Regions from separate parts of the Homo sapiens genome. Here region 1 is linked to region 2. The links come from fine-mapping of genetic effects on gene expression. A gene starts in region 2. The other region holds a variant in brackets. All regions are shown on one strand. Distances are between the middles of the regions.

Evidence for each region. PIP is the estimated chance that this variant, and not a neighbour inherited with it, causes the effect.
Region 1: its variant is fine-mapped to the expression of LINC00426 in blood mononuclear cells (TOPMed, PIP above 0.99).

What each region holds. Positions count from the first base shown.
Region 1 is chr13:30,322,933-30,325,735 of GRCh38, forward strand. All of the region lies in intron 1 of LOC124903145 (a long non-coding RNA gene), which reads left to right. Among named protein-coding and RNA genes, the nearest start is that of LINC00427, 4.4 kb to the left of the region's middle. The variant G/C (reference allele first, on the strand shown) is at 1,192.
Region 2 is chr13:30,372,304-30,375,106 of GRCh38, forward strand. LINC00426 (long intergenic non-protein coding RNA 426) reads right to left here and starts at 1,611. Exons shown (of 5, transcript NR_024464.2): 1 at 1,480-1,611; 2 at 1-71.

The DNA of each region.
Region 1 (2,803 bases), 49 kb before region 2:
GCTGTGTCCTATGGAAGTTCCTCTAGGCAGATTTAGTGGCTGCTTCTGCTGGACCTCCCATAGACACACACACACCTTTGTCCACACATCCATTATAACCACTATCTTTTCTCATTGCATATGCTTATTATGTTCAAATTCATCTCCCCACTAGACTAAGTCCCTTGAGGCCAGGAATGATGTCTTACCTTTGCATTCTCAGCAGCTAGTCTATTGCCCAGTAATAAAGTATTACTTAATGAATACATCAAATGAATGTATGAATAAATGATACCTAAACAAAGTTCTACAGGAGCCTAGAAATGGGAGCTATAACCGGTGACTGGCCACACTGAAGAAGCAGCATTTGACCTTGTATTGAAGAACAAGTTTGATTTTGCTTGGCAGAAAAAAAAAAAGGAGAGGACTATAAGCAGAAGAATAACAAGAACAAAGGCATAGGAGTGGGCAAATCCGTGGTCTTCTCAGAGAGCACCTCATGTTACAGGTCCAGTGGAAGACAGACATGAAAGAGGAAGTTTGGACCAGAATAATGTATGTGCTAAGGAGCTGTGGGCCTTATTCTGGACATAATAAAGAACCATGAAAAAATTTTGAATAGGGAAAAGTCATGACCAGATACATGACTTGATTGGAGGTTGGTTAGAAGGAAATTGCTATGATCTGGGCAATTGAAGTAAGTGAAAGCCTGATAGAGTTGCAGCAGCAGTAGGAGGAGGGAAACCAAGTAAATTTGAGAAGCATTTTGGAAATAGGATCAAGATGACTTGGCAACCAATTGAATATGGGAAGTGAGGAACCAGTGAAGCTGAAGCTTGGCCAAGCTTTCTGACCTGGCAACTGAGTGAACACTCAGACAACACCACCTACAACTATATCGTCTTTACAGGCAGATTGGAAGCTCTGAGAGAGTAAGGCCCTTGCTCTTGGTGTATCCTCTACATCTCTTGTAGCTCCTAACACTGACCGTGCATTCAGAGGTTCCTAGTAAACATTTGTTGAAAGAATTGATGATGTTTCTTATACTCACCAAATATGTCAAAAAGGAAAATATAATACAATGTCTTTTCTTCAGAGACATTTTCAAATTCTCAGCATGTTTTTCCACCACAAATGAATTCACAACTATCTCATTCAACTTGTACATCCACAAAAGTGACCCATTGTTGCACAAACTGAAATCTCCTTTAA[G/C]ATTGTGTGTGTGCTGGGGAGGACAGTCAAACGGTTGGTATTTTTACTTTTTTTTTTTTTTTTTTTGGAGAGAGGGCTATGATATTTTTGGTCCTCTGAAAATGAATCCAAAACAATAAAACAAGCTGAATGTTTTCCTCTAGTGGAAAGAAAGAAAGCAAACCTACTACAGGTAAATTGAAATCTTCAAACAGACCCATAACACACTGCTGAGACATTCTTGAGATGATGGCTTTAGTTAGACTGGGGCCACACATCTTTACATTTCTTCATTCACCTGGCAGGACTAATGAGATTTTATGGCGGGCAAGCTGTTTATCCCTTGGGTGACATTGGCAAGCACATCTATATCTTTATCAATCAAGGGTTTTCTGCACTGCAACTCCCACCCCCAACCTAAAGATTGCCCCAGCCTGGATCACAACATTTACAACACGTAAGAACCTCATTCCTTTTCATCAACACTCCACCCATCACTTTCTGTTACCTAGATCTAATCATGTGTGTCCTAACATCACATTGCTCCATAACAAGGGGCAGGAAGAAGAAATGAATAAAAGGAAAAGAAAAAAAGGTTTCGATGGTACCTGCAAGTTGATGCAGAGCTGACAGCTCCATGGCTAGAATATTATATTTGCCCAATAGAACAATAGGTCTGCTGGCAAGCTGTTACCTACAGTACTGTATCTGCTGAACAGGTGGAAAAAGCTCTCTTCCCCTCTGCAGTGGTTTAGGAACATGAGGAGGTGACCACCACTCCAGTTTGGAAACAAGGATTTGGTTCCCCTTTGTAGCTTTCATATTGCCTGAATTCACCTGCAATGTCTATTTTCAGTACTTAATAAATACTCATATACACATGAACATACAAACTCACATATTTAACAATTGCCATCATAAACTCTCAGGATGATGTATCCATTCTACCTTTGCAACCTGGAAAATGTCCCCAGATCTCAGACCAAGGAGATACTGGGGAAATGGCTCTGCAAAAATCCAGGAACAGGTTTTGGTTCTGGTTCTCCCATAGAATATATCTATAACACCTGGACAGAATGCTTGGTGCAGCTGCTTGAGAACTCTTGAAAAAGTAAACAGTAGCAGGTAGATTGTGGGAGAAAACCAGAATTCAAAAGTATCACCAATTGACTGTGGATTTACCATGTTTACCCTCTGTATTCCCTGGACAGGACTCAAGGCAGCCTTTGTGACAGGGAGGGTTCCAGCATAAACCTTCTAGTTCAGACTCAAGGTGAGAGAAGAGTCTTCTGGCAGTGGCAGCCACAGCATGGAAGGCCCACAGCACAGAATATGCTGTCGAAGCGGGACCTTCCTCTTCAGTCAAAGGAATCATGGTCCCAAGACCATGCTTTTTCTTTTCTCTGGGCTCCCACCACTTGGTCCTGGACAGGGCAGAGTCACAGTGAGTGCACAGAAGAGCAGGGTGATAAGGCTCCAGTTTTCTGGATGGATAGCCAAAAAGGTGAATCCTGGGAAACTGGAAAGTGCCAGGGAGATGGTAGAGAGAAAGGAGCTTGGGAAAACGAACCCAGACAGTTATTTGCTGGCTTGTGGGCACACCCTTGAGCTGTGCATTCTTGGATTTGATCAC
Region 2 (2,803 bases):
CTGGATGCTGAGTATTGATCCCAGTGTTCAGGGATAGTTACTTCATTAAGACTTCTGAGATCCCCCATTTGCTTGAAGATAAAAACAGGCAAAGGTATAAACAGATAAACAGTCACACAAATAAGTAGCTGTGTGGGCCATTACTTTTAAAGCATAGTAGATGTTATTTGTGTTTGGAGAAGCTTAATGATACACTCAAGAATCCAATAGTAGAAACTGTTTGCTTTCAGGAAGAAAACGTTATATCAGGAAGGTATGTTTGAAGAAAAGAACTATATAACAGCGATCCACAATACACCTGTTCATTTGTAGCATAATAGTTACACCTGCTCCCTGGGGCTTTTTTGAGATTTCAGTCTTTGGTGTAAGACACACATACACACATGTGCACACACAATGGTAAGCATGCATGCTCTTCAGCTTCAACCCTCAGTGCGCAGTAAAATAAAAAATATAGTTGAATCATCTGTCTCAGCCCCAGCTAGAGCCCACGTCTTCCAACATGAATTTTAAAATACCTTTTTGCCTTTTAAAATATGCTGTAGAGGCCGGGCGCGGTGGCTCACGCCTGTAATCCCAGCACTTTGGGAGGTCAAGGCAGGCAGATCACGAGGTCAGGAGATGGAGACCATCCTGGCTAACAAGGTGAAACCCCGTCTCTACTAAAAATACAAAAAAGATTAGCTGGGCGTGGTGGCAGGTGCCTGTTGTCCCAGCTACTCAGGAGGCTGAGGCAGGAGAATGGCGTGAACCCGGGAGGCGGAGCTTGCAGTGAGCCGAGATCGCGCCACTGCACTCCAGCCGGGGCAACAGAGCGAGATTCCATCTCAAAAAAAAAAAAAATGCTGTAGATGAGTTTTAGTTTATCCGGGTCCTTTGTAATTAATCTCTGCATTCATCATAATTGGAAGAAAAGCTCAAAGTAAGAAAATAGCTTTCCTCCAAGTTTATTGCAATCAGAGAAAAATACAATTTAAATGTTTTTGTTTCCCATTTCTGTTCCTTACATGCATTGTCTAGAGTGGTTCCTGGTCTATAAGCCAGTGGGTTGAGATACCTGACCAGACCACCTTTTCAACCCAGTTCTTTCTCCTCTTTGTATTTCTCCCATACAATACAGTATTGAATATTTCATAACCTATGGGTGTATGTTTTTGGCAATGTGGCTAAGTCAGGCAGCATTGAGGACTGTCCTGGTGACAGTCCGGTGCAGCCCTCACCCAGGCTCCCACATTCACACCCCTCCACTCTCCAGTGGGCTGTGTAAGTTAACGGCAAATAAATGGCCCAGAATGGCTTCCTGTTAGAGAAAAAAAGGGACAAAGACTTCTGCCCTTAAAACTCTGGTAACAAAAGTAATCTAGTGGAAATCAACATTACTAGGAATATCCTATGATTTTGGTGGTGTTGAGTTCAAAGACAGCATGGCCGAATTGTGACCATCCACCCAGTCACATGAGGCAAAAACCCAGGCCCTACCTGTGTCCTGACCTCCAGCTTCCTCCCCACGGCCAGTTGGTTAGAACGTGTAGGGAGTGTACCTCTCCCAGCCGTGGAATCCCCTCACCATCTTCACCCCTTCCCCACCTTCAAAGACTTTCATGGCCGAGTGTGGTCTGACCACACTTGATCCAAAGCCCTTCCTCTGAGCTCTCAGCTCCACGTCACAACCTCGTGACCACGTGCCTCTCACTGTCATGTGCTTAGATATGTGTGTGTGTGTCCACCTCACCACACACTGTGAGATCCTTGAGGGCACGTTGTCTCTTTCATTTCTGTGTCTCCAGTGCCTAAAATGGAAAGTGCTCACTTACTAAATAAATATACAATATAAAAAATAATTTTTATCCCTTGTCCCATTTGAGATGGAAAATGAGTAAAGTTTACAAGTATTAATATAGTCAGCATCCCACTAAGACCACACAGACACTGAGATGAGCAGAGGATGCTGAGGAGCAAATGCAAAATAAACTATGAGAACTGTGACAGCTTCCAGTGCTCTTCATTATAAATATCAGCAATTGCTAATATCCAATAACATGTCACACACTCTACATTAAATCATCACAAGTCTCTAAGGCAGGTGTTAGTTTTCTCTTTGTACAGCCCAAGAAGCTGAGACAAGAGTCACACAACCAGCCAATAGAGAGAAAAGATTCAAACCCGGAGACCTTCTGTCTCTAATCCCACCCTCCTCCCACTGTCTCCTGCTGCCTCTCTGTTTCAAAGCTTGGCTCTGAGACTATGAGCACTGCCAAAATTTTACAACAGTTTGCGTATGTCATGGTCTGCAAAAGCTGTGGATGGCACTGTGGTGGCAGCCTCAATAGAAGGCTGAGACTACTTACCAGAGGGAGGATTTCCTGAGCTCCGATCACACCTGCTCTTTGTTCTCTCTCTGTCTGTCTCTCTGTGTGTGTCTCTCTCTCTCTCTCTCTCTCTCTCTCTCTCTCTCTCTCTCTCTCTCAATACAGACAGGGTCTCACTCTATTGCTCATGCTGGAGTGCAGTGGCGTGATCATAGCTCACTGCAGCCTCAAAGTCCTGGGCTCAAGTGATCCTCCTGCTTCAGTCTCCTGAGTAGCTGGGACTACAGGCATGCACCACCAGGCCTGGCTAATTTATTTATTTTTATTTTAATTTTGTAGAGACAAGGTCTCGTCCCTTCCCCAGACTGATCTCGAACCCCTGGGCTCAGGAGATCCTCCCACCTCGGCCTCCCAAAGTGCTGGGATTACAGATGTGAGCCACCACTCCTGGCCCACACCTACTCTTTATCCTCAACCCACACCCCCAGGCTCAA